Regions from separate parts of the Homo sapiens genome. Here regions 2, 3 and 4 are each linked to region 1. A link means that fine-mapping ties the variant in region 1 to the plasma level of a protein whose gene starts in the linked region. Region 1 holds a variant in brackets. A gene starts in each other region. All regions are shown on their forward strands.

Region 1 (8,652 bases):
AACACTTAATAACAACAATAATAATATCTGACAAGGATAGAGTGATTACCACTTGCCAGGCACTCTTTTCTGCATGTTATATATGCTTGCTTATTTAATCTTCGCATTTAAGGGAGTTAGGATCTAGGCACAGAGAAGTAACATAACTTGTCCCAGGTTACACAGCTAATTTTTAGACTTGGTTTAAACCAGCCAGTCTGGCTCCGCACCGGGAGCAACCAAAACTCTTCTTGCATGCTGTGGAAGAAATGCCCCTGGCCAGGCTTGAGGGTAAGGGAAAGTTGTACAATGGCTTCTTTCTAAATACAGGTGACATCTTGTGTCAGTGGACACCAGACAGGAGAAATGCCCCTGGCCAGGTTTGAGGGTAAGGGAAAGTTGTACAATGGCTTCTTTCTAAATAGCCACAAGTATTGACAATTCAGATGACATCTTGTGTCAGTGGACACCAGACAGGTGACTTAGGAATGCGAAAGTGTAGGCGCAAACCTACCTTTGCACCCAGGAGCAGTGAGAGGCAGAGAGCACGGCAGATCTTGTAAACTTTAGGTCTGTTTCAGCTGTAATTGCCAACATTTCCTTCATTTTATTTTTCAAGGGTGATTTAAAATTAATCCAGGCTGGTTTTGCAGAAAAATATTTACCTTAAACACATTTATTTTCTCTGTTGATTTTGTAAAAATCCAGAACCCTGAGGAATGGCTTCAGTTCCAGATGGTTACCGTGAATGACCGTGTGACACACAGGAACGGAGGCTGGCTATGCATTTTGAAAAACTGTATTTCAAAGGCATTTACAAACAAATGCCCAATAAGTCAGTTAGAAACTAAGGAAAATAGTTTCTAATAATGGAAATGATGTCATTCTGGATCTGCAGCCACAGATAGCATTGGTGGGGAGATGAGGAAGTTTATAAAATTAGAATTCCCTAACTTTCATAAAGAGATGTTTCCCTTCACCCAGTGCTGACTAGTAGTTTGGAGTTGCAAAATATTTATAAATGGTGAGACTACTCCAATCTGTTATTTATTTATATTTATTAGTACTAAAAATTTTACAAGTAACTCTTTAAAACGTTTTTCTAATCATCTGCTCCTCTAACACTTACTTGCTGTTAGAGGACTCTGCTAGATTTCTTAAGGTGTCTTACTTTTTAAGAATAATTCACCGGACTTTAAAAATATTTTTCATTACTAGTAGCTTACTGTTGTATATGAGTACCATCCTCTAGTAAGTTTCAGGTTTGCAATTTTAATCTGTTTTAGGGCAAATTTATTTAAAGCCATTTAAAACCACACATTAGAGTATATATAAGTACATAAAATGTTTCCATAGCAACCTGAAAAGATGTAAATGGCCAACTTAAGAAACCCAACATAATACCAAAGAACCACTTATATACCTAAAGCTGAATCTTATTATTTATTGTATTAATAAAATGTTTATTAGAAAAATTATACCTGATTGCTGTAATCTGGAAGAATTGAAGTAGCCGATAATTTAGTGTTAAAATGTTAAATGGACTCTATAGTTGTTCACACCCACCTAATCCTTAGAGTTAATATTACTTAATGCTTTGTGAGCTATGGTCTTTGTCAAAATGTTAGGTCATTTCCAATCTCTATGAAAATGACAAGTCTGTTCAACAAATAAATCTCAATCTTTTTATTCTTACTACTTAAGGTAGTCCTCAAAGGCTTTGTCAATTCTAGAAAGTGTACACATAACCTTTAATAAGTCCTGAAAAACTTTCTTTTGCTTGTATTCTGTCTTTGCCCATTACAAAAAAGCATACCCAGTGGGGATGGAAATTCTGTCATCCTTGATCACTACTGTGTGTTTGTCTAGAAGGGTGGCTGGTACATAGTAAATGTTCAATAAATAAACTCCCCCTGGCTGCTGCCTGAGCAAATTTGCATGCTTTGGGCTTTAGGTTAGAATAGACATGAACATACATGTGTTTATGTAGGTACATTTTCACTATGCTAATGAAACAATGAAACTATTCTAAAAATAGCCACAAGTATTGACAATTCAGATGACAGTTTTAATGTTTGTTAGTTTCTTTATTTCTTCTCTTCCCCCATTTCCTCCTCTTTCTTCTTCATATTTTTGTTTTGAAGTGGGGTAAATAATTACCTGATACATTGAGTGTAGTCCCTGAATGTATTTTGTATTACTAATTCACAGATGCATTTGTCCTTGTAAATTAGTTGCACACAGATTTATTAGTCATTTTTGAAGAGTTAATTACACTGTTGTTTTTGATTATAAAGACAAACATGGTCATCTAAGAAAACAAAATATAAGAGGTTGTGAAAAGTAATCCAGATAATGCTTAAATCCATAGTCGGGACTCTCAAGAAAAACTATATTAATGAATGTGGTATGTTAAGAAATGGTGTTTTCTTCAGTTTTTAATATTTATGCTTTTCATTTGTATGTTTAAAACTATAATTAGGAATATCTAGTATATATATGTGTGTGTAATTTTTCACATTTTTATTTAACATTATTATAAAAACTTTCCCTGTCAACAAAATTAAACAAAACTCATCACTAATAATTTAATATTCTATCAAGGGATGTTCCATGATTTACCTAATTGTTTAAAAAGTTATATATTGGGCTTCTTTTGGGGAAGTCCATTTTTTAATGAGTAGGTGATAAATGCATACATATCTGTTGTAACTCCTTTTGCTTATTTCTTCTAAATTTTTTTTTAGGCTAAGATAATTGCAATGGTTTAGAAGTCCGTTGGTGTATTTTGAAGTGTGAATGCCTATGTTAACATTTTTTTTTTACAGAACAAAATAGTTTTATTTAAGATTCTTTTCTTTTCTGTTGTATAACCACTTATAGTTCTTGTAAATCATTTTTTCCCAGGCATTGCAAAACTGGAAGAAGGAGATGAACTCCAACTTGCAATACCAAGAGAAAATGCACAAATATCACTGGATGGAGATGTCACATTTTTTGGTGCATTGAAACTGCTGTGACCTACTTACACCATGTCTGTAGCTATTTTCCTCCCTTTCTCTGTACCTCTAAGAAGAAAGAATCTAACTGAAAATACCAAAAAAAAAAAAAAAAAAAAAAAAAAAAAAAGTAGTTACCATTGCCTTTTCTGTGAGCTATTTGTTTTGGTTTGCTGAAACTAGTCCAAAACAGGAAATTTAACAGACAGCCACAGCCAAAGAGTGTCATGTGAATTACAAGAAATAGAGCCCATTTAGGGAAAGATAGAACTAGAAAGGCTTTTCATTATAATTCCATGTTGAACAATTGAGTCATAGCTTCTTATCTTGGAGGAAGGACACAATTCAAAGGGGCAGTAAGGATTTTGTAAAACGTGGCATCCATAATTTACTATGGAGCAAGTGCCCACATCTCTAGGACATTAAGACATTTATGAGAAATCTCAGGATTCATCTTCTGTTTTTATGTTAAATGCACTCCCTCCTTTTCAGTTAACATTATAAAAAGTAAAAAATGAAAATTTTAGAAATCTTGCATTAGACACATGAAAAAATAACTAAAAGTTTAAATTTAAATATGAAACAATTTTGCTGAAAATAGTATCCATATACTATTTAAGTCTTTTATGGTTATTTCAAGTATACAATTTCTATCTGTAATGTAATATATTACCCACACATTTTTTTCACAGGAGAGAGAGAATATCCTCATTTGTTTATGCTCATGTGTATTTTCTATAGTGAATTTCAGAAACTTTTAATATCAGGTAATTTCAATTTATGCCTATAAAGCATTGATTGAAAAATAACTAGAATTGTGCATATATAACACATAATCTCCAACAGAAGTTACTGAATACATTCATACTAATGTAATGTAATTTCCCTTTATTTCTTGCTCTTCTGTTTCAAACTGCTGCTATTGTAGTTTACATATCCCAACCTTTAAAAATATTCCTCTTATTAGCTTTATATTCACTTTATAGAAGTTGAGTTTTAATTAAAATTCTTGGCATCCTGAAGTATGTCACATAGCATGTGCTCCTTATAAATATGTTGATATCTCAGAAGACAGCATCCCGGTTTTCATTTTATAAAGTACCATACTTAAGAATGCTG[T/A]AATACTTATCTTTTATAACATGTTTCCTTCGCTTTGCTTGTCTTTTATGTCATCAGTTTTAACTGTTTACTTCATTTAACAGTTTACATCATTCAACAGTTTACTTCATTAAACAGTAGGTGGAAAAATAGATGCCAGTCTATGAAAATCTTCCCATCTATATCAAAATACTTTTCAAGGATATACTTTTCAAAACAAACGATTTAAATTTTATGTTTAAAATATAAACTTTAGATTTAAACTTTATTTAAATATCTGGTTCCTATGATTTTGACTTCAGTAAGTTCAAATAAAATATATTTTGCAATTCATTTTTACATTATAATTTAAAAAGAAGAAGCGATAAGTGGAGTCAGTTTCAATGCTAGGTGGGGTGGTTAATGATTTTTCTGGTGTTGCTGCTAATGTGGATTAACAAATAAAAACATTCATTGCCTTTTGCCTCATTGTCTGACTGAGTTTGTCTAGCAACACCCACCTTTTGAATTCTCGCTGTATAATTAAATGTTATTTTTAAAATCAGGTGAAACATGATAAATTAATTTGTGTTAGGATATGATAGTTTGGAAATGTGAGTATGTTCCATATCTGAAAAAGAATCTGTTCACATCTGTATCTGTCTAACTACCTAATTTTAAACTTTTTAGAACCGACATCAATTATGTTATTACCTTTAGAGTTGAATTTATCCAACAGTACAGTATATTTTGTGAGATTTTTAGTACAATATTAAGTATATATTATTGGTATAATATCAAGTATTTATATATTACTTATAATATTAAGTAGATGTATAACTGAGAAAAGCTAATAGCAGGCCAAGCATTCTTCTCCTAAGGAGCTGACTATGAGGTGGTGAAATTCCACCAGGACAAGCATCTTGTAGGGATCACGAAAGGCATCATTGAGGGCAATCTTGTTGGCAGCAACCTCATTACATCTTGGGCCCGACCCCCACTCTGCTGTAATTAGAAGGTTGTATTAGTCTGTTTTCACACTGCTGATAAAGGCTTACTCAAGATTGGGTAATTTATAGAGAAAAAAGGTTTAATGGACTCACAGATCCACATAGCTGGGGAGGCCTCATAATCACAGTAGAAGGCAAAAGGCACATCTTACATGGTGGCAGGCAAAGAGTGAATGAGAGCCAAGTGGAGGAGGAAACCCCTTATAAAACCATCAGATCTCATGAGACTTATCACTACCACAGGACAATATGGGGGAAACGGTCCCCATGATTCAATTATCTCCCACCAGGTCCCTCCCACAACACATGGGAATTATGGGAGCTACAATTCAAGATGGGATTTGGGTGGGGACACAGCCAAACCACATCAAAGGTGCAGTGGAGAATTCATAATCCTCACCATTTGAGGTTTGATGATGGTGATGAAGACAACAGGTGGGATTATAGATATAAGAGAAGGGAGGAAATTCTTTACCGTTGAGTTAATCACTTTACATGTTTTTAAAACTTTTTGACTTTTTGTTTTGAAGTAATTTCAGACTTTTAAAAATATGGGAAAGAAAAGTGTAATGAAACCCCTTATATTCTTCACTTATATTCCTAGTGTTAACATCTTACAGCACAAGGGTAAAAGTCAAGACACTAACATTAATACAGCAACTAATGCACAGACCCTTTGAAGACTGACCACATGCTAAGTTATAAAGCAAGATTCAGCACATTTTAAATAGTTGGCTTTATAACAATTACAGTTCCTCTACAGCATCATTAGTAAAAGAAATTGGTGATTAAAAAGTAAGGAAAATATGCACGTGGAAATTAAAGTGGAGAGAAATTACTTCTAAATAATTTATGGCTTAAACAGAAAGCATATGGAAATTAGAAAATGTTTACAACTAGATGACAAAATACTTCACAAGAAACCCTGGGGTGTAGGAAAATCAGTGCATACATAGAGTTTATAAACTTAAATGCTTATATTATATAAGAAAAATGACTGAAAGTTATGAACTAAGCACCAACAGCAAGAAAAAAACAAAAGCAAGACAAAACAAAAGCAAGGTAAAAACAAAATAAACAAAAAAACCTAAGCCAAAGGAATAGAAGAAAGCAATTAAGGATAAGAGCAGAAATTCAGAAACTGGAAAAGGCAGGTAATTAAAAAGGTCAATAAGACCAAAAAATTTATATAGAGGTAAATAAATATAAATATAGACATAAACAAACGTAATGATACTTTTATCATAAAAATAAAGTATTTTTATTTTATCATATTTAAACCTCAAAGTTTCTTGTGAAATATTTCATTATCAATATTTTCAAACAAAAATACAGCAAGCCAGCATAAACAATATTAGAATTGAATATGGGGAGAAAAGTATAGATGCCAAAGAGAAAAATGAAAAAAAAAACGTTTTGTCAAAAAACTTCAGCAAATTAGATGAGAGACAAATTCCTAGATAAATATAAATTGACAAAACTGATCAGTATAAAAGAGACAAAAATGAATCCGTTAGAGACGTTGAAGTAGTTTACAATTTACACATACAAAAATGGTCAGGCCAAGATGGGAAAATTTTCTCAAATATTCAAGGGGTAGACTACTTCTATATTATGTAAATTATTTTAGAGAACAAGAAAAAGAGAATACTCCCAAGTTCAACTTGTATTTTCCTCTATAATCTTGATACCAAAACATTCTGAAGGCAGAATTACAAGTAAAAATTACAAGCCAATCTTACTCATAAATATGTCTTAAAACATTAGCGAATTGAACTCAGCAGTGTATTTAAAAAGAGCATGCATAATAACCATGTTAGATTTGATCCATATGCGAAAATTTATATTAATAACAGATGTAAGTGATTATAACAAAATATTAAAGGAGAATATCATATGATCACCTCAGTAAATCCAAGAAAGAAAGAACAATTCAATATTTATCTATGGTAAACACTTTTAGCAAAGTGAGAATAAAGAAAACTTTAAAAATCTTGTGAACTTGGCAACCAGAACAAGATAATTATCCCTGGATTATTATTACCACTTCTATATTATACTGAAGGGTCTAGACATTTTAACATTTATTCAAATAATATTTATTGAATGTCTAATATTTACGAGGCAATATTCCTGGTAATTATTTAGTGGGAAGGGGGCAAAAAAAAAAAAAAAAAAAGCAGAACATATGGTTTGCTAGATGGTAACAAATACTATGGAGTCCAATCAAGTAGCAGACATAAGGCATTACTGGAAGAAGATGTGGTGCATACTTTAATAACAATCACGAATATTTATTAGGTATTTATATTGTGTGAGAGACTCTTCTAGGTGTTAATTTATTTCAATTTTCCAGCAACTCCAAAATATCAAGCCACTATTAATTTCCTTATTTCATAGATGAGAGTTATTTCATAAACTCAGTTTATTTCATAGACTTATTTCATAAACTCAGAGTCTACATAAATTGGCTGTTTGCTGTAAATGGCAAGGCAAGATGTGAACTCAGGTCCTTTATTTGTAAGTCCTTCAACCTCAGCACTATGTCATACAGCCTTCAGTCAGGGAAGGCCTCACTGAAGAAGGGCATGGAGAGGGTAATGTAAGTGATATGGTTTTGCTGTGTCCCCACCCAAATCTCATCTTGAATTCCCATGTGTTGTGGTAGATAATTGAATGAGAGACAATTGAATCATGGAGGTGGGTCTTTCCCATGCTGTTCTTGTGATAGTGAATTAGTCTCTCGAGACCTGATTATTTTAAAAAGAGGAGTTCCTCTGCACACACTCTCTCTCTCTTTGCCTGCTGCCATCCATGTAAGACGTAACTTGCTCCTCTTTGCCTTCTGCCATGATTGTGAGGCTTCCTCAGCCATGTGGAACTGTAAGTCTAATTAAAACCCTTTCTTTTGTAAATTGCCCAGTCTTGCGTATGTCTTTATCAGCAGCATGAAAACGGACTAATACAGTAAGATTTATGGGGAAGAGTATTTGAGAGAGAGGAAATGGAAAGCAAAATCCCTTCAGTGTGTTTGTGGAGCACAGTGGTCCCAGGATGCCTGGACAGCAGTGATCCATGGAGAAAGTAGAAGATGAAGCTAGAGAGTTAAGGAGGGGAGGGCACTGAGCCTGCAAGAACTTGCTGTGCATTGGGAGGGAATTGCTTTTAGTCTGAGTGAGAAAAGAAACCCTAGAAATTTCTGAGCAGAGAAGTGATGTGATCTGACTTACTTGTAAAAGAACCACTTTGGATTCTGTACTGTTTAGTCTACACGGGAGAATGGGTGAAAGCAGGAGACTAACAGGGGTCTGTAGCCATAATCCAGGCAAGGAATCATGGTAGCTTTGACTAGAGTGGCCGAATTGTGTGTTCTGTGTTGAATGAAATATTCAAGGATAATATCACATGATCACTTCAGCAGATCCAGGAGGCAAAAAGTACAATTTAATATTTACTTACGGTAAACACTTTCAACAAAGCGGGAATGAATAAAACTTTTTAAATCTAATAAAATTTGCAACCAGGAAAAGATAATTATCACTGGATGATTATTACCACTTCTACATTTTCCCCAAATATTTGCTCAA
Region 2 (8,652 bases), not on the chromosome of region 1:
CTTTGACACTTGAGATTTTCAAAAGAGAGCAGTTAGTAAATGGGAAAGAAAAGCTTATCTTCCCAACTATCTTCTAGAAGAAGAAAATATCTTTGAACTCATACCTTTACACTGCCTGCATATGTCACAGGTCCTTTGTCCACCTGCGCTGGAGAAACTATTTGGAGGACAGGGACTGCAAATCTGATTCCTGTTATTATCACAGAATGTACCTAAGAAAGGCAGACAATAGTGGTACACGTTTGACAATGGGCAATCGTCACCCAAGGCATTCCGAAGTTTACAATAAAATAAGATTATAAAAGAATGATGAGTTTTCTAGATGCCACAGTGGTGGACATTAGTTTGATTGACTTCCTAAAACAATACATTTGCAAGATTATTCTTTGTGTAATCACAGAATTAGAAATAACAAAATACAGGCCAGGTGCAGTGGCTCACGCCTGTAATCACAGCACTTTGGGAGGCCGAAGCGGGCAGATCACCTGAGGTCAGCAGTTCAAGACCAGCTTGGCCAACATGGTGAAATCCTGTCTCTACTAAAAATACAAAAATTAGCCAGGCGCAGTGGTGCACACCTGTAATCCCAGCTACTCGGGAGGCTGAGGCAGGAGAATTGCTTGAACCTGGGAGGCCAAGGTTGCAGTGAGCTGAGATCGTGCCACTGCACTCCAGCCTGGGCGACAGAGTGAGACTGTGTCTCAAAAAAAAAAAAAAAAACATACACACACAAAAAAAACAAAAAAACCAGATATTGTAACAAATAAATCAACAGAAAGAAAATACTTTATCTATTGAATAAAACAAAATGATTATCTTGATTGATGTAGGAGATGAATATGACTGGATCCAGGAGGACATCAATGTCCTACACTAAAATTTAAATGCGACTGACCGTCCCCACTCTGTTAAGCCCTTTACTACGCGCTTACTCGCTGCTATGCCCCCAGTCGGAGCACAAAGCCCTACACACAAAACTAACATTTATTGAAGTCTTGCCTTGTGCCATGCACTGTTCTAAGCCCTTCATTTGATCCTCCCAGCCATCCTATAAAACAGGTTCTCTTATTATCCCCAGATGAGAAAGTCAAGGCACAAGAGGTTGAATGACTTTGCTGTGTTCACACAGCTAGGTTGTAGCATCCAATAAACATTTGTAAATGAATGAATTTTCATTTTCCTTTCCTTAAAAGGGAGCTCGTTAGCCCTGACTACTAGACTAACTGAACCATACTTCCAACAGAGCAGATCAAATGCACATGATAACTGGGTACTCACCAGCTGGGCAGTTACTACAAGGATCCTGCAATGATCTTGTCCTCTCAAAGTTGAGGACCAGCAACAGAGTGGCTACTATGTTGTAACAGCTGTTTCCCATGATGAAATCTGGCACAGGTATGATACTAGCAAAGCTGATTCCAAGAGAATTTTAATCAAATTAGCTGGTCTCACAAATGTCACTCTGCAAAAGATAAACATTTCCAAGGAAAGGTGGTTTCTCCTTTCAAAATTATCTATATTGCAATCATTACTTATACAATTCTATAAGAGGATAACTCAGGGTTTTTCAGGAACAATTAATGATGCAATATTACGGAAAAGTAGCAGATTCATAGAAACCACTAGGACAAGGCAGGCGTGATTAAACACACAGCTTTGTGCCGGTTTGCCAAAGTTTGAGGGTGCATTTTCCATCATGTTCTGCCAAAATGCAGAAATAACAATAGCAAGAACTTTTGGGGACTTTCATAGGTACTTTGCAGTACCAACCAGCAATAATGCCAATTACTTATTGCCCCTGAAATAAACTCCTTACAAAGAGAATCTGTCAGGGGCATCAGACAATTCAGTTCAAGAAGAAGCTATCACATAATCACTCTTCCCCCTTTAGCTGAACACCTAACTACTAACATGTGGAAAGACCTCCCTGTTCAACTCACTAACACATTTTCTTAAACAGAGACATGTTTTGAGATGTGAAGTTTGTATGGTAACAAAACTAAGGAGTGAAAAACTCTTCAGGCTAAGTTATTGATGTTTATTTAAAGGGCTATTGAAGAGAAGTTATTACATATTAGGAGAAAAAGTCTAGAAATGGGCAAAGGGAGCAAAAGTTCCAATCTCACCCCTTCTCAGTGCCCCCACCCACTCCCCCAGATGGACAGACCTTGAGATCTCAGGGCTGCCGGAGAACTTTCCACTCCTTGGTCTTCAGGCTTCTGCAGCTCGAGAGGACTTCAGGTCAAACACAGGAGTGCGGTGACTCAGCCAGGGGCGGGGTCTCATGGGAAATTCCCACCACAGCTCTGTGACAGCCCTATGAAATCATTCATTTCATATCTGCTGACCCCGAAATCCCCTAGAGCCCCCGTCCCTGCCTGATAATGGCACTTCAAATTGCTTCTTGGAAGCAGCTCTCTACTGTCAGGATGTGTCACAGATGACGCTGGGAAAACGATTTTGTCCCTTAAGATAGCTCTCCAGGACAAAGCATTTAGCATGTCCTTAAAACACTGGATTTGAGATTAGAGGAATGAAACCAAATTCAAAACAGTGATCAGCATTTTGCCATATGCGGTCCCCTAACTCCATAGTCACTGTAATGCAATAGCTGCCATTACTTGAGCACAGCCGATGTGCCAGGCATCAGAGATGCACTGCGGTGAATACACACTATCCTCGAAAGAACCCTAGAACTTGGTATGACTGCTGTTGTTACTGGGAGAACACTATGCAAATGAGGAAAGTGGGGCTGCAAGTGGAATTAGAGCGTCAACAGGACAGGGAGCAGGCAGGGTTGGAACCCAGGTCGGCCTGGTCCCTTATCGTGCTCCTCCGGGCATGGGTGACAGAGGGAGGAAGGAGGGAGAAATGGAGGGAAATGGAAACAGGGGAAGCACAGCAGTCACACGGCAAGTCAATGACCAGGACGTGGTTCGGTGAAGCTGAGAGCTAGGAGGGATTTTTAGAAAACCATGATTTCAATTTTTCTTTAAAAAAAAAAAAAGGAGAAAGAGACCAGGCGCGGTGACTCATGCCTGTAATCCCAACACTTGGGAGGCCGAGGTGGATGGATCATCTGAGGTCAGGAGTTTGACACTAGACTGTCCAACATGGCAAAAACCTGTCTCTACTAAAATTACAAAAATTAGCAGGGAATGGTGGCGGTGGACCCCTTTAATCCCAGCTACTGAGGCTGAGGCAGGAGAATCGCTTGAACCTGGGAAGTAGAGGTTGCAGTGAGCCGAGATTGCGCCACTGCACTCCAGCCACAAAAAAAAAAAAAAAAAGAAGAAGAAGAAGAAGAAGAGGAAGAGGAGGGCAGAGAAAGCAGAAGGAAAAAAAAGTACAGTAAGAGGAGAGGAGGAGTATAAGGAGAAAGAAGAGGGAGAAGAGGAGGAGGAGGAGAAAAATAAAGAGAAAAGGAGGAGGAGGAGGAAGAAGAAAAGAACAGAAAGAGAAGGGGAAGAGGAAGAGGAGAAGGAAGAATGAGGAGGAGAAAGAATGAGACGGAAGAATGAGGAGAAGGAAGAGTGAGGAGGAGAAAGAATGAGAAGGAAGAATGAGGAGAAGGAAAAAGGGGTGTTTCTGGAGGAGGAGGAGGAGGAGGAGGAGGAGGAGGAGGCGGCTGCTCCAGGCTGTAGATGAACCTGCCCATCATTGAGCAGCTGGAGAACCTCAGGAAAACCAGGGGAACTGTGGCTGGGGCAGGCGTGGGCTGGGGAAGGACATCGAGAGTAGCTTGGGCCGTCCTCCTGCCCCGCGGTTCCCAGCACGAGCTCTCCCGACAGAAGAGGAAAACGCGGCGCGACTCGGTTGGGGGACAGCGCTGAGATGCGGACAGATGCGGACGTTCTGCCGCCGCCTGCAGGCAGAGGGACTCGGAGATCAGGCCGCAGAAGCAGAAGAAGGCAGACGGGAAGGAGGAGGAAGGAAAGGAGCCTTGTGGCTTCGTGTCCGACCCTCCCGCCCTTGGCCCGCGTGCCTGGAGCCAGCCCCACCGCGCCCGCGTTTCCTCCCGCGGGACTTCCCTTGGCCCTGGGTCTGCAGCGGGTCCTGCCGAGCTTCCTTCCCTCAGGCAGCCTCTCTCTCCCTGGCCACTCTCGGGGGTGAGGGGGGTTACCGGTTCCCAGTGATTTTTATTCCCTTTGCTCTCTCACGCCTCATGTTCCCCATTCTCCTGCCTCAGTTGTGTAATCTTGAGCAAATTTCTCAACCTCCCTAACTCTGTTTTTGCAAGCACATCTTACAGGTGCAGTGACACCATACATCTTCCTCGTGAGTGAGGATTAAATGAGACGATGAGCATGAAATACTTAGCTCAATGCTTGGCACATAGTTCTCAAGAAAGTAGGAATTGCTATGATCAGACTTACTGGTTTGAAATGTTCCTTCCCTGCCTCCCACACTGACCATCAGTAGAGCCACCACAGGGCAAGTCATGACAGAAAAGGAGAAAAACGCATGAGCTGCCTGCAAAATGTGTTCCCAAATACTGACGGTCATCTGAGAGTTATCTTACCTGTGACATCTGTGGGATCCCTCCTTGCCCCACTTTGGCAGAAATTGGCTGAATGTGAGAGTGTCACACCATAAAAATCGGACTGCTGATCCCCTCCTAACACTTTGAAAGTCACCATCTAACCAAGTAATCTCCTTGTTTACATGTGGTACTCTGTTTAACATTGCAGTGTGACATTTAACTGGGCCATATTTCATTTAACTAAATGCTACTCACTAGTCTACGTTTTGGACATTCTGTAGGCAGAGACATTACTTCCTCTGAAAGTGACATATTTAGTTTCCCAGCACAGTAATTAGCTCACTATTTCAGGCTTTTATGCCAGTAACATAAGAGTCTTTACTGAGCTAAAAGAGTCTCAACATTAGTTTTGCCAGCCCACAGTTAAACAAAGTCAACCACTTCAGAATTCTGCTACTGAAGGCTATGCTCAACTTTACTCAGGCGTTTAAAAAATTCATGGCTGGGAACAGTGGCTCACACCTGTAATCTCAGCACTTAGGGAGGCTGAGGCAGGAGGATCGCTTGAGCCCAAGAGTTCAAGATGACCTGGACAAGATGCCCAGACCCTGTCTCTACAAAAAATACAAAAATTAGCTGGGTGTGGTGGCATGTGCCTGTGGTTCTAACTACTTGGGAGGCTGGGATGGGAGGATTGCTTGAGCCTGGGAGGTCGAGGTTGCAGTCAGCCATGTTTGCACCTGTGCACTCCAGCCTGAGCAACAAAACTAGACTGTCTCAAAAAAAAAAAAAAAAAGAATTCATGTTACTGCATGCATTTTTGTGTGGTATAAAATCATCGTAGTAAGCTAAGTCAAATTATATAGTTAACCAGATATACATACTATCTAAGCTAGCCAAAGGTGTAATACTCTTTTGGTATAATTTTCATTTGCTTTATAACATGTATCATATTGCTTTATCCATTGTAGCCCTGTAATCTTTCAAATGCAACAAAAGCTTTTTCTATTCCATAAAACCATCTCAAACTAAATCAGAGATGACCCCGACAAGACAGCAACACTTTAGCAGTATTAATAATATTAATAATATGTTTCATCCATCCTAAGCAGTATTAATAATCTGTTTCATCACATCCTAAGCATCTCATTCTAAACCAAGAAATAGGCCGGGTGCAGTGGCTCATGCCTATAATCCCAGCACTTTGGGAGGCTGAGGTGGGAGGATCACAAGGTCAGGAGATCGAGACCATCCTGGCTAACATGGTGAAACCCCATCTCTACTAAAAATACAAAAAAAAATTAGCAAGGCGTTGTGGCAGGTGCCTGTAGTCCCAGCTACTCTGGAGGCTGAGGCAGGAGAATGGCGTGAACCCGGGACACGGAGCTTGCAGTGAGCCCAGATCGTGCCACTGCACTCCAGCCTGGGCGACAGGGCGAGACTCCATCTCAAAAAAATAAATAAATAAATAAAATAAAAAAAAAATAAATAAATAAATAAACCAAGAAATAGATTTTATTTCATTTTGATTGACTATAGGTCTAATCTTGAATATCTCAAGCAGCTAAATACTTTGAGGCTAAATAGCATGAAGGCCCAACAATTCTAAACAGGATAAAGGAGACATTTAGAAAGAGAAAGCCCTCAAAATAAGCTTCCTATAAAATATTCTTCCGCCCTTCCAGGGCGCATCTTAGAGGGAATCTCTTCCGTGGGATATTCACTGTTTACACTTGTTTTCTGCCTGAAAGATCTATTCTTTCAAGATTCAGTGTCGCCACCCCTACTCCAAACACCCAAACTAGTAGTCACTATTAGACATACCTGGTGCTTGTGATGTCAGTAGGTGTTCTGAGGCCTGGGAAGGAGTAAATTGTTTTTAAACTTGGAACAAAGAAAATGAGCAGGAAATCAAAGAGGAAGGAGGCAGAGTAAGGAGAAGGAAGTACGAATCATAAGGAGAGGCGGGTGTCAGCAGCCATCGACTTTGCTCACCTTTCCTCCTTGTTCTGCCCTTTCTCCAGGTGGCATCCACTCATATGCTAAGGCTTATCAATAGTTGTCTCCAACTTCAGACCACCCCCAACACTGTGCAGTCCCCAGGACAAGAGTACAAACAGAGGCCTGCTTACCATGTGTCCAAATATTTAGAAATTGTTCATCAATCCAAATACGCTGTTAAGTATGTTCTGTCCAGAGCAGAGACACAAACACACAAACACAATGAACACAGAGCTGCGTCTGTGACTGGGTGTCTGGCGCACGGTGCTGGCATAGGGATGCATTAACTCGGCTCCATCTGCTCTCTGGACCCACACTGCCAGGCCTGGGTGAAGACTCCCCCACATCCCTGGATCCATGTCCTTGAAACTCCATTTGAGGGTGACACCGTGCTGTGAGAGTTGTGAGCTGTGCTGTTGCCTCCAAGAACGGCAGGGAGGGTGTGAGCCATAGAAGTACCAGGCAGACAAAAGGCAAGTAGATTTGTCAAATCCATCTCAGATACCAAGGGTGTAACAGATTCTTGTATAATCTATTATTATGCAAGAATATCACAGACAGTGGTATTTCCCTACAGTCCCAAGTATCCTTTTTTTTTTTTTTTTTGAGACAGGGTCTCACTCTGTCACCCAGGCTGTAGTGCAGTGGTGCAATCTTGGCTCACTGCAGCTTCTGCCTCCAGGGTTCAAGGGATTCTTCTGCCTCAGCCTCCCGAGTAACTGGGACTACAGGTGCGCACCACCTTGCCCAGCTAAGTTTTATATTTTTTTGTAGAAAGGGGTTTTGCCATGTTGCTCAGGCTGGTTATCCACTTGCTTGATCCAATTTATGGCCCACTTGGTGGTTTTGGAAGTTCTTGTATATTGCCATGGAATTCACAGCAGTTATGCACAAAGTCTGAGGAAGACTTTGTAATATTAAACAATTCATATTATTCTTGAATATGCACATATGTAATATGTAGAATAAGAACTGCAGCATTAATTCTTTACTAGAATCACCTAGGACTGAGACCCAGAATGACAATTTCAATTTTTATAAAAATATTTAAAACAATTTAAATTTCAAAAGATTAAAAATCTCAGTTCTTTAATAAAAATAAGTTTTAAATATTTGATATTTATCCACTATAATTTGTTTTTAATTCTAATACTTTTGGAACTTTTAGAAAAATGAAAAAACGAATGTAAAAACAAATTTAAAATTTTACATACTCAAATTCACACATTATATTAAATACATACAAATGCTGTATATGTTAAGTACAATTATATTTTATTTCTTAATCCTTTAAGTCATTACTGTCCAAACACAAATTATGCGAAATTATCTATTGTAACAAATGAAATGAAAGCAAAAAAATAAATTTTCTAGATAAAAATACAATTATTTATGAACTATGTGTGTCTTTTTTTTTTTTTGAGACGAAGTCTCGCTGTGTCACCCAGGCTGGAGTGCAGTGGTGTGATCTCGGCTCACTGCAACCTCTGCCTCCTGGGTTCAAGCGATTCTCCCCACTCAGCCTCCCAAGTAGCTGGGACTGCAGGTGTGTGCCACCACACCCGGCTAATTTTTGTATTTTTAGTAGAGACGGGGTTTCACCGCATTGGCCAGGATGGTCTCAAACTCCTGAACTCAGGTGATCTGCCTGCCTCGGCCTCCCAAAGTGCTGGGCTTACAGGCGTGAGTCACCATGCCCGGCCCTGTATGCCTTTATTTACCACTAATTTAAACATTTTCAGGTCATCAGAAAACATCTACACATTTGTAATGTTAGTTAAACTCAGTCATCTTTGCCAACTTTGTTACATAAAAATAATTTGTTATTTAGTTACTTTGAAGACTTCTCTGTGAAGTAGAATATTCTCCTTGCGCTTGATTTGCCACTTTTAAATATTCAGACATGGTGTGTGGGCCCCATTTCTATACTTGCTCCAGGCCCCAAAAGTGTTAGAGACAGCGCTGAGAGACACACAGTTGGTAGTCAATAAACCTTTATCAAATGAACAAATAAATACATGGATTTGTTCACTCCAGTCCTGCGGTCTGCCTGTCTCTTCATGACCTAATGTTTTAATTTCACTCTCTTCCTGGGGAAATCATTCTGGCATGCAGACCCCAACCTGAGCTGTCATTGTCCTTTCTCAGGTCTCATGTAAAATGCTTTT
Region 3 (4,000 bases), not on the chromosome of region 1:
ACAGTTAGATATGGGGTGTGTGTCCAGAATAGACAAATATAGAGAGACAGAAAGTAGATAATGATTGCATGTGGCCAGAAAATAGAGGGGTGAGGATAGGTGAGGCGTTGGAAAAAAAATTGGGGATGCCTGCTAGTGGGTATGGCGTTCTTTCTTGGGTGATGAAAACATTCTGAAATTGATTGTGGTGATAGTTGCACCACTCAGTGATTGTCATAAAAAACCATTGGATTGCATAACTTAAATGGTGAATTGTATTATATGTGAATAATATTTCAATAAAGCTGTTTTTAATAAAAGATACTGTAGCATGTTTGTATACTTATGGGAATAATTTAGAATGAAGAAACATATTGATGATGGAGCAAACTTTTTGAGAAAGTAAGAGGGTCATGGGCCTAATGCACAAGTGGAGAGTCTTGTCATCAACAAGATGAGGGGCAATATATTCGTGGTAGGGGAAGAGAAGGCAGTGTATGTGAATGCAGAGGTGAGTAGGTCAACAGCAACAGAAAGATGAGAGAGTTTTCTTCTGACTGCTTTTATTTTCTCAATGAAATATGAAGCAAGATTACACAATGAGAGTGAACAGAGAAGTATGAGGTGACAGGATAAGGTATGCAATAGTGATAATGGAGCAACATGGACTGTGAACATGTAGGATAATTGCCTGGCATTGCTGTTGGCTACCTGAGATTTGGGGGTCCTACACTTAAAAGGGGATAAGTCATCAGGGTTGTGCATTTAAAAAAAAATCCCATTCAGCTGTTTATGTCCAGGAGTGAAGCATGCAGAAGGGCGTGTAAACCAGGAGAGTGCTATGGGGGAAGAGAGATGAAGGTGTGCTCGAGGGAGTGTTGTGGTGGTGAGCTGCAGAATCTGAGCTGAGCACCATGAGAAGTGAGCACATGAAGTGTAGTTACTGATAATGGAAAAGTAGCCCTGGGGTAATTGAAGTCATGTTGGAAATAGAGTGCAGGAGAAAGTGAGCTAGAAACACAACTTAGTGGGGGTGGGGGATGTATGCTGAAAACAAAGGAGTGATGATAAGTTCTAAGGTTTGACTGTGGGAATGGGGAGTCAGAGAGGGATAAAAGGAAATAACGTTGGTAGTAAGAAGGGCAAGGAATTCAGAGGCCTATTTATTATACAGATTTTTCTTTTGGCAGCTGTTGAAAACACTGAGAACAAAGACAATTATTGATGGAAAGGAAGACAGACAGTGAACACTTCCTATGAGATAAAAACTGAAATGATAGTTTTCTTGAAAACTCTGGCTTTTTGAAATATCTACAACTTTTTGCCTGACTCTGAGCCCTCCGTGGAAGTGGAGATCTGAGCACCCCTGAGCATTACCTGACAGAACCTTAGTCCTAAGAAGTCCTTACAGCCCTTCAGGAAGCAGAGCCCAAGCATGATTGCATCCCATGCCCTGCTCTGAGTTGCCCAACTCACCACAGATCAACAGCAACAGCCTCGGCAGCATGAGGACCAGGTCAGGGATGGTACCTAGAGATGCCTCTCATCAAAAAAAGAATGCACCTCAGAGTCGAGCAGCAGCAGCTCATCAGAGGTTTGAGGAAGTTGATATCGGAAGTTACCCTTCAGCAGAAGTAGAAGGAAGAAGAACCCTCTAGTGACCAGTCTCCATTTCCTTTTCTATGAAGTCTGAGAAAATTAAAGATGCTCCTTTTTAAATATAGTTTGATTCAGTTCCACAAGCTGCAGATAGTACACATCAATATTTGAGGGACTTTTTCAAGAATTCAGGTATTTCAAAGGAAGTTTTCTAAAGGCAGTTTCCTACTTTGATGAGTCTCATCAGGTTATGGTCCTGCTGAAATTCATCTTTGATACATCTACAATACTTTTCACCTTTGATAGGGATGTCTCCTGGATTGTTTCTAATTGGCACATTCTTCTTGCTCAGCAATATAGTCCCACTATGCAAACTTTCTCTAGTATAGTCATATTATGCAAACATGTCATTAAATCAGGGACTGATGGGGCTGTCACCCCGGTTATGTGTAGTGTCTGACCCTTGCTGCATATGATGACTTATGTACAGGGTCAACCTATTCATACAGATATACGCTTTGATATTCAAACTTTCAGTGTACCAGTAAATGAGCATGAAATCACTGAAAAATAAAATCACGGCAAATTACAATCTGGGGGATATTTGAAAATGAAATACAGAAAAGAAGTATATGCAAATTAGCTTCAGGGCACTTGAGAAGGGTTCACCATTAGTACTAACTCTGGCATTTGTAAAATTGCCCCTCTTTTCCCTCAAAATCAGGGCACCTATAATCTCTCCCATTGCTACCTTTAGCACATTAGGGATACCAGTTCTAGGCAAGTGAAGCCTAGATTAGGGATTGGAGGAGAATAAGCTATCTTAATTTTCAACATTTCTTAAATCCGTGAGTGTCTAGGATTAAGAATAACTAGAATGTGTGGAAAGTAACCTATTAGGGGAAAGATGCTGTCAGGCAATGATGTCTAAGTCCAGGTATCCAGCTCAATGAGTATGACTGAGAAAAGAAACTATTCAGTGATACGCAAAACCAGAGGGAAAAGGGAGCAATGTTGGTAACCAGGCTAACAGCGAAAGTGCTGAAAACGAATAGGTATTCCATAGCTTTATTTATTGGCTTAGGAAAGCCTGTGTGGGGATAAGCTTGTTTAGTGTAAAGTTTCAGGACCAATGCAAAAAAATCTCCTGAATGAGAATGTAGAGCCCTTTAAATCCAGGGTGTAAAGCTGTTTTTGCATACACTCTGCTGTTTCATCTCTCTCTTTTTCTTTTAATCTGTTGGTTTTTTTAATGTTTTAATTGACACATTGTAATTGTACATATTTATGGGGCACAGTTTGACATTGCAATATAATACATATATATGTTGTACAGTGATGATCAAATCAGGGTGGTTGGCATATCCATTGTCTCGTGCAGTTTTCATTTCTATGTGGTGAGAACATTCAAAAGCCTCTTTCCTAGCTATTTTGTAATATATAATACCTTACTAGTAACCATAGTTACCCTACTGTGCAATAAAACACCAAACCTTATTCCTCCTATCGAATTGGCACCTTGTACCTGTTGACCAATCTTTCCCTCTCTTCCCTCCTCATTCCCTCCTCAGTCTCTGATAGATGCTATTCTATGCTATACTTCCATAATATCAACTTCTTATTTTTTTCAGATTCCACATATAAGTAAGTTCATGTGGTATTTGTCTTTCTGTGTCTGGCTTGGTTCACTTAACATGATGTCCTCCAGCTTCATCATGTTGTCACAAATGACAGGATTTCATTTTGTATGGCTGAATGGTATTCCGTTGTATATATACACCACATTTTCTTTATGGATTCATCTGTTGTTGGGGTCTTAGGTTGATTCTCATCACATCTCTTCCTGTGTGTCCTGCTCCAGTGCCTTCACAAGATGTTCAGATTAAAATGTGTTTCCTCCTCCACAGATATAAAGGCTATAACATTTTATTTGTTAAGCTCTCTCACACTTTTATTTTTATAATGTGATAGTTCATGCATGCATACAAAAAAGTAACATGAATATAAATTATGAAATACTACGATGAAATGAAAAGCCATGAGCCTATCCCCAGACTGTTTTAAGAACTTGAACATAAGGCGGGCGGATCACGAGGTCAGGAGATCGAGACCATCCTGGCTAACACAGTGAAACCCCGTCTCTACTAAAAAACACAAAAAATTAGCCGGGCGTGGTGGCGGGCGCCTGTAGTCCCAGCTGCGCGGGAGGCTGAGGCAGGAGAATGGCGTGAACCCGGGAGGCGGAGCTTGCAGTGAGCCGAGATCGCGCCACTGCACTCCAGCCTGGGTGACAGAGCGAGACTCCGTCTCAAAAAAAAAAAAAAAAAAAAAAAAAAAAAAAAAGAACTTGAACATAACATGATACTATTACATCTACTTGAGTGTGCCTTTTCTAACCCACTCCTCGTGTACTCTCCAGAAG
Region 4 (8,652 bases), not on the chromosome of region 1:
CTCCCTTTATACTCCCCTCCGCTGCTAAGCAATCACTGATCTATTTCCTGTCTCTATAGATTTTCCTGTTGCAGACTTTCACGTGAATGGAATCATATAATGTGTGGACTTTTGTTATTGGCTTCCTCCAGTTAGCATAATGTTTTCATGCCTCATCCAAGTTGTAACATATCAGTACATCATTCCATCTTATGGTTTTTTCCGTTATGTGGATGTACACACTTTGTTTATCCATCAATCCGTTGATTGACATTTGAGTCATCTCTACCTTTTGACTGTTATGAATAATGCTGCTATGAACATTCATGTACAAGTTTTTGTGTGAACATATGCTTTCATTTCTATTGGGTATTTACCTAGGAGAGGAATTGCTGGGTTTAATCATTTGAGAAACTACCAGATTGCTTTCCAAAGTACCTGCACCATTTGATATTCCTGCCAGCAGTGTACAAGGGTTCCAGTTTCACTACATCCTCATCAGCACTTTTTATTATCTGATTGTTTAATTTCAGCCATCCTGGTGAGCTTTGATTTCTGTTTCTAGTGGCCCGAAATTCTACAAGAATCAAAGCTCAAATTCTCCCACACCCCTAAAATGACCTAGTAGATTTCCACTTTCTCTTTTATGTTGCCCTAATAATTTCTCTTATACATTCTGATTATATATATTTATAGGGATATCTAGATAGATGATAGATAGATAGATATATAGATAGATAGGCAGGATGGATGGACAGATAGGATAGATAGATCGATCTAAACACACACACACACACACATACACACACACACACACACACACGTATTTCAGCACTTAGGGTTGTTTTCAGTGGAATAATTCATCCAGTTAACCTAGGACATAACATTACTGAAAATAGAATTCCATTCTTTTACCCATTTTAATTGGTATATCGTTCCTATGGGTATGTAGCAGTTCTTCACATGTTCTACATAACAGTCTCCTTTTTAGTTATATGTATTGCAGATGACTTATGTCTTATGTAAGTCATGTGGTTGTGCTCTTGTAATAATATATTTTAACAAATGAAGTTTTTAGTGTTAATATACTTGAATCCATCAAACTTTTCCTTTATCATTTGCATTTTCATGTCTATTATAAGAAATATTTCCTTACCCCAAGGTCATAAAAGTACTCTCATATATAGGTTCTTCTACATTTTTTAATGTCTTACCTTTCATGTTTAAGCCATCATCCATTGGGAATAGAATTAATATGTATGAGGTTTGGATTGATTTTATTATTCCATTATATGTAATGAATTGTCCCCAAATTATTTGTTGAATAGTCTCTCTCATCTTTCACCAGCAATCTTCAGCACTACCCATGCCATGAAGCTACTTTCTATATATGAGGTCTTTCTCTTTTTTCTTATTAATCTATTTTTCTACTCATTCATCAATACCACACTATCCTAAATATTAAGAATTTAGGTCTTGATACCTACTAGAACAAGTATCAGGAAGTGTCACTTTTACTGTTTGTGTCCCTTTGCTATGATGTATTTTAGAACGACATTGTCAGGTTCCTTTAAAAATGTTAAATTTTGACAAAAATTGCATTGACTATACATTTGATCAGTTTGTAGAGAGCTCATATATTTTTTAATCAAGTTGTCCTATACATGAATGTGCTTATTTCTTGATTTATTTAGGTCACATTCACTTTACCTGAATAAAATGTTATAATTTTCTCCATAAAGATTCTTCAACTATTCTGTTAGATTTATTCCTATTACGCACTTTTAGTAAGCATCCTCTTCTTAAGATTTAAAATGAGCTCAGTTTAAAACAAAATGCTTCTAATATTTTACCATAAGGAAAGATATTTGCTGCAGGTATTTTTTGCAAATATCTTTATAGGGCTAAGGGAACTCTTTTCTATTTCTCTGTAGTTTAAAGGGCTTTTAAAAATCGGTTAAATTTTATTAAATCTTTTTTTTTTTTTTTTTTTTTTTGAGATGCAGTCTTGCTCTGTCGCCCAGGCTGGAGTGCAGTGGTGCAATCTCGGCTCACTGCAAGCTCCGCCTCCCGGCTTCACGCCATTCTCCTGCCTCAGCCTCCCAAGTAGCTGGGACTACAGGAGCCCGCCACCATGCCCGGCTAATTTTTTGTATTTTTAGTAGAGATGGTATTTCACCGTGTTATCCTGGATGGTCTCGATCTCCTGACCTCATGATCCGCCCGCCTGGGCCTCCCAAAGTGCTGGGATTACAGCCGTGAGCCACTGCACCCGGCCAAATCTTTTATGAGTTTATGTTTGTGGTAGATTTTAATCTGTTGAAAACTATCTTTGTAATCCTAGCACTTTGAGGACATGGCAGGAGGATTGCTTGAGGCCAGGAGTTTGAGACCAGCCTGGGCAACAAGGGAAACCCTGTCTCTACAGAAATCTTTAAAAATAGCCATGCATGGTGGCATGTGCCTGTAGTCCCAGCTACTGTGGTGAGGCAAGAGGATCACTTGAGCCCAGGAGTTCGAGGCTGCAGTGAGCTATGATAGTGATACTGCACTCCAGCCTGGGCAACACAGCAAGATACTGTCTCTAACAAAACAATACAAAAAAACTGAAGGATGGTTCCTCTGAAGAAGAATGTGTTTCCTTCAGTTAGAAGCCAGAGGACCACAACAGCACTCGGCTTAATTCAAGTATCTTAAGTCAAATTGCCTACCTTGTGCAACTCCCTGCATATAAAGCTTAGTCAATTGTAGTAAAAATTAACACAGGACAACCTCCTTTGTGTACACCTACAAATCACTGCTCCAATTTTAGTTCCATTTACCTTTTTTTCAAAATTGTCCCCATTGGCACCAACATGTATGTACTCTGGATTTTGTTTATTATAAACAACTACAAAATCCTTTTGATGTATGTCTAATGTCTTAAGCATATTACAGGATGAAAACTCTGTGCAGAATCCCCATTTTCTCATGAGATTTGTGTATTTATTCATTCAAAAAATTTCTATGAAGTGTCTACCATGGATCAGGCAATATTCATGGAACTAGGGGGCTCGAACATAGAGAAACAGACAGACAAAAAAACAAAATATTTCCTTCATGGATCTTACATTGTAAGAGAGACAAACACAAATGAGGTCATTGTAAAATATATAATGTGTTCAATGGAGCTAAGTAGTAAGAGAAGAAAAATAGACCAAAGAAGGGGATATGAATGGAAAGGGAGGTAAAAGTGTAAGAGGATATCTAGGAAAGATCTCACTGAGAAGGTATCTTCGAGTAAAGACTAGAATGAAATGAGGGAGCTGGCCACTGGGGCTATTCAGGAGAAAAACAATCTGGACAGAGCAAACAAGACCCTCCGAGGGCAAAGGACCCCAGTCAGAGTGCAAAGAATACTAGAGCAGCAAAGGCCATTGTGGCCAGAGGGAGAAAAGAAGGAGAAAAGGGTCAAAGATGAACTCAGAGAAGTTAAAGGAAAGCAGATCACATTGGACTGAATGGATCATAGTTATGACATTGCCTTCTACTTTGAATGAGATAGGAAATTATTGGAGGGTTTGGAGCAGAAGGCAGTGATTTCTTTTTTCCTGACAAACATGTAAACAGGATCACTGCAAGATACTAGACACCAACACACTCATCTACAGAGGAGTTGAGTTTTTGTGTTGCTGAGAAGTGTTTATTAATAAAAATATATTTGGGAAATTTATGAGGGCAGACAAGAATAAGCATGAAAAGAATCATGAATCTAACTGTAAAATAAATGAAACAATACACGTGCAAGAAGAAAACATGGATGAATTATTGTGTAACCTGGAGAATGGTTTTTAAAACCATGGCTCCTAATCCAGATGCAATAAAAGAAAAGATTTATCAACTTGACTGCATTAAAACAGACAATGCTTACAAGGCAAAACGATGCCATAAACAAAGTCAAAAGACAACTGACAAACTGGGAGGAAACATTTGCAAAACACATCCAGAATAACAATCCTAATATATATAAATAAGTCTCAAACATTGAGAGAGGAAAAGGCAAATATACATGATAAAAATATATTTTATAAATGTTCAGCGTTACTCATAGGGAATGCAAATTAAAGCTACACTGAGATAAAATGTCTCATTTATTAGACTGACTAAAATTTAAAACCATGATGACAGCACATTAGATTAATGAGGTGCTCTCACACAGTTTTGTAGGAATATATGTGGTACAACTCTTATTAAGGAAATTTGGCAATATCTAACAAACCTACATATGTGTTTACCATTTGACCCAGCAATCCCACTTCTAGGAATTTGAACTGAAGACATGCTTCTAACAGCAGAAAAATAAATATTCACAAAGTTACTCTTTAGAGCATTAAAAACAACCAAACTGTCCATACATAGGGAGATGGTTGAATAAACTATGGCATATCCACACAGTGAAGTATTGCATGCAACTGTAAAAATGAATGAGGAATATTTGAATTTGTAGGAAATAGTGGATTCCAGCATATTTGTTAAGTTAAAAAAGAAATGTGCAAAAGAATACCTATAGCATGCTTTTAAAATGTAATAAAAAAGGAGAACTAAGAAGACAAATGTGTAGCAGCTCATTTGAGCAAAACTAAGGACAAACCAGAAACTACTGAAATTGAGTACCTATGGTGGAGAGGATAGAGGTGATGGAGAGAAGTGACATTTCCCTTTTATTGTGTCTTTTTATATCAATCTGACATTTGGGACTACGTTAATGTTTTATTTAAGCAAAAAAAAATCAAAAAGATTGAGGGGAAACTAAAATAGAATACAAAGAGAAACAAATTAACAGTATTTTGAATGAATAACAATCACACTGAAGAGGGGGAATAATCTGAGTAACTTTGGAACACAACAATGCTGTTTTTATATTTTCGGGCTATAAACAAAATAAAACTTTAAAAACGAGTAGATTTGATTTCCATCATAGTATAGAAATAGCAATTTTAAACTTCTTTCTGTGTATTCTAGGATTAAGCAAATAAGTAAATATATTGTGGATCTAGGTGTCTCACTGTTGAAGAAGGGAGTTACACATGCAGAAAGAGGGAAGGACAGAATGAACTCTATGCTAACGGACTGAAATTGGAAGAATCACTGTGAATTCATGACATATATAAATATAGATATGGGAATGGATATACATATATATATATAATACATATCCTTGCTCTGTCTGCTGAGAGGGTGCGGAAACAATGATACTCCAATAAAAATGAACACACTTAGCATCCAATTCTGGCATCTAAATGCCATTCTCTGCCAGAAAGAACCAGCATTCCTTGGAGAAACAGCAAATTCCAGTGTCAGGTCTAGAGGTGAGTCTGGAGCATTTTTTTTTGTGTGTGTGCCAGAAAGTAAGGAAGTGCTCAAAGAACAATAAGAACAAGTCAAAATGACATAGGAACTATTTTGAGGGCTCCCACTGGCCCGATCAGGGAGAATTTAAGCATCAAAATAAATAATGGTAGCCATGAATTATGACCCATTGAGTAAATAAATAAAATTCATATTGATATAGTTTATGCTGATATAGATAAATGAATAAATAAATAGAGAAGGGAAAACTTTTATTTACAGTAAAATGCCAACAGATGAATATAGAAGTAATTATTAAATTAGGAAAAAACACCCTTTGACAACCATCATAGTAAAAATTGATTCAAGAAAGGATCATCAATAGACGCTAAAATTTGTGGGTAAAAATTTGATGAAAAAATGAGGAATTTACATAGTTTTAAAGTATCTCCCTATAAAATACTTATTAATTACAAAGGGAAAAATACTGAGTCTACACTAAGAAACATGGCAGGCACCATCTTAACTAAGTGATCAAAGTTACCACCACCAGTAATAGGACAAATAGACAACATATGCCTCCCCGTAAGGATAAGACATCCTTTCTGGTATTCCTGTCAAATAATTAGATTCAATAACCTGAATCTATCATGAAGAAATGATAGACAAATCCAAATTGTGGGGTGTGATCCTGTCTCCTGACATTACCATCCACGTATACTGCCCTCCTACACTGAAAAGGGCTGATCTGTACAATCAATTGGATATTCTGGAGTTAACATATTGTGATTTCTGAGGACAGGTCACAAAGGACATTATGGCTTCTTCTTTCTTGTTCTCAGAGACGCTAGCTGGCATGTCACGAGGACACTCAACACACAAGCAGCGAGCCCTATGGCAAAATCCACGTGGTGAAGAATGAAGCTTCCAGCCAAAGGCTGGTAAGTGAGCCATCTTAGATGTGGATTCGCCTATCCCAGTTAACCCTTCAGATGACTGCACCTCCAGCTGGTGTCTTAACTGCAATCTCCTGAGCGATCCCAAGCCAGAACCACCTGACCGACCCACAGAAACTGTGAGATCATAAATGTTTATTCTTGCTTTACACCACTACCTTCAGGGTAATTTGTTATTATAATAGATAACGGACTTAAAAGTCATTCTCCAAAAATAATTGTGGTGTATTCGTCAAAAATGTAAAGGTCATGCAATACCAAAAATGCTGAGGACATTTTTCCAGAATAAAGAACTGGGGGTGGGGGGAAGGCATAATGATCAAACACAATACATGATCCTGAAATGATTCTGGACCAGGAAAAACAAAGGTTGGTTTCTATTGTTGTTATTGTTTTTACCATAACACAGGTTATTGAGATGATTGTCAAAATTTAAATACAGATGGTAGCTTATAGTCTTGTGTCAATGTTAAGTTCTTATTTTTGATCATTGCACTCTAGTTATGGAACAGAAAGTCCTTAGTGAACCATTTAGAATAGGAATAAATGCTAGATGGTTCCAAAGTAATAATTATATAATTATAATTATATAATCACATATATGTACATATATGTCTATAGAGAAAGAATAGAGAATGGTAAAGAAAATACAGCAAAATGTTAACATGCAGAGAATCTGGGTGACAAGTATATGGGAATTCTCTGCAGTACTCTTGAAACTTTTCTGTAGAGATTACTTCAAAATAAAGAACAGAGCAGAAGTGGCTGCTGTTCCTAAATTCCCTAAGTAAACTTACACTGCTTTTTCAAACTGGGAGATGAATCCACTAATAGGTTTTGAAATGAGTTTGGTGGATTTCTAATAAGAATAGGATAGCCTAGCCTAGTCTAGCATAACACAGCATGGCACAGAGGACGAACATTGTAGATTACTAAGGGTGAGTACTAACTTGTGAAAGTTTTGTTTAAGTTCTAGTAAGAGAAACAAGTGAGTGTAGTGGGTTGCGTGGTCAAAAAAGTGGGGAAGCCACCGCAACGAGGGGTGAGTCTGAGCCAAAGAGTGGCTCAGAGCTCCCCGCCCACCTCGTGCCGGGCCGTCCCTCCCGCTTGTCCCACCCTCACCGGCGCCGCGTCAGCCCCCAGGCCGCCTGCAGGTGTGCGCTCAGAACTAGCACGTGTGCCGGACACTATTTAAGGGCCCGCCTCTCCTGGCTCACAGCTGCTTGCTGCTCCAGCCTTGCCCTCCCAGAGCTGCCGGACGCTCGCGGGTCTCGGAACGCATCCCGCCGCGGGGGCTTCGGCCGTGGCATGGGCGCCGCGGGCCTGCTCGGGGTTTTCTTGGCTCTCGTCGCACCGGGGGTCCTCGGTGAGCTGGGAGGGGGAGCACGGAGGTGGGGACGCGTCCCGGGCAGGGAAAGTTTCTGTGCCGCGATGCAAAGCAGGGGGCCAAAAGCGAGACGGTGGGGGCAGTGCTCGACGCGTGTCCGCCTCCCGCTAGCTTTGAGGGACCACTGCAATAAACCGCCTGGTCCTGATTGTCCCCACTGGCCCCTCCGGGAGCTGGGACCTCCAGAATTGGAGGCTGCGCCACAGAGGGGCGCTGTCTGGTCGGCCCGGTGTGGCTGGCGGCGTGCGGGTGCTCGCGGTCTCCTGCCGGGCTCCCCGCCCCCAGGATTCTGCAGGTGCTCATCGCTCTCTGGCCGGCGGTCAGCGCTACCGCTCGCCACGGGAAACCTACCCACTGCATGAGGCACCAGCTAGCCACGTGAGGCTGTTTCTGTACACCCGAACCGCGCTCTTGCCCAGCAAAAGCGGCAGAACCTCGGCTCCCTTCCCTAAATAAGAGTAAGACCTGGTTCCCAAGCATGGGTCTCAGATTTTCTGAACTCTAATGTGATATTGGTAGAGATCCTAAACATTAACCATCCGTAGTTATTTTTGAGACATGGATTAAAACTATTGTTTTCTTCTTGTTATTAACCTACTGTAATGGTGTGGACGTCCGCAAAGGTCTCATTCACCGTTTATTATATCTTTTTTTCCTCCAGATTGGCTTGATTTTAAAGAAAGATTATAATTAAGATTAGCGTCTCTTGGCTACAGGATGGGTCTAAGTTTCTAATTATCTCCACGGTACCGTGCATTCCTAGTTTATAAGACGTTTACTGTGTGCAGACCTCAATAACTGGGTGACTTTTGGCAAGTCATTTAGCTCCCTGATCTTCAGTTTCTTCATCTGTAAAATGAAACTAGTGATTAACTGGCCTTCCACCTCACTGAGCTGCCCTGAGCACAGATGAAACTAAGCAAAGAAAGTTGGATGTTAGTCGTTACTACTAAATATCAGTAATAAGCCTCCTGTACAGACTTGATTTTATGGAGCCAGCAT

Alleles and levels. Alleles are on the strand shown, and positions count from the first base shown. The strength of an association depends on the size of the effect and on how common the allele is.
For the plasma level of the protein whose gene starts at base 2,223 in region 2, allele T in region 1 goes with a lower level than allele A (weak association).
With allele A in place of T in region 1, the plasma level of the protein whose gene starts at base 1,569 in region 3 is higher (weak association).
With allele T in place of A in region 1, the plasma level of the protein whose gene starts at base 7,481 in region 4 is lower (weak association).

The links. A credible set is the group of variants that fine-mapping cannot tell apart. PIP is the posterior inclusion probability: the model's chance that the variant is causal. The UK Biobank Pharma Proteomics Project read protein levels with antibody pairs (Olink). The fine-mapping took linkage between variants from a reference panel, not from the people measured, so its PIPs are less certain.
Region 2: TNFRSF9 starts here. The variant in region 1 is the best candidate, but not a certain one, in a credible set for the plasma level of the TNFRSF9 protein (UK Biobank, PIP 0.60).
Region 3: it holds the start of FCRL1, and the variant in region 1 is the best candidate, but not a certain one, in a credible set for the plasma level of the FCRL1 protein (UK Biobank, PIP 0.58).
Region 4: CR2 starts here. The variant in region 1 is the best candidate, but not a certain one, in a credible set for the plasma level of the CR2 protein (UK Biobank, PIP 0.70).

What each region holds. Positions count from the first base shown.
Region 1 is chr13:108,303,940-108,312,591 of GRCh38, forward strand. It overlaps TNFSF13B (TNF superfamily member 13b), which reads left to right. Exons shown (of 6, transcript NM_006573.5): 6 at 2,887-4,539. The coding sequence ends at 2,999. Among named protein-coding and RNA genes, the nearest start is that of TNFSF13B, 39 kb to the left of the region's middle. The variant T/A (reference allele first, on the strand shown) is at 4,098.
Region 2 is chr1:7,938,617-7,947,268 of GRCh38, forward strand. It overlaps TNFRSF9 (TNF receptor superfamily member 9), which reads right to left and starts at 2,223. Exons shown (of 8, transcript NM_001561.6): 1 at 2,168-2,223; 2 at 1,279-1,462; 3 at 105-212. The coding sequence starts at 1,378. RefSeq lists a silencer at 3,927-4,066.
Region 3 is chr1:157,818,552-157,822,551 of GRCh38, forward strand. FCRL1 (Fc receptor like 1) reads right to left here and starts at 1,569. Exons shown (of 11, transcript NM_052938.5): 1 at 1,456-1,569. The coding sequence starts at 1,486.
Region 4 is chr1:207,446,848-207,455,499 of GRCh38, forward strand. CR2 (complement C3d receptor 2) reads left to right here and starts at 7,481. Exons shown (of 20, transcript NM_001006658.3): 1 at 7,481-7,629. The coding sequence starts at 7,572. RefSeq lists silencers at 7,320-7,549, 7,930-8,039.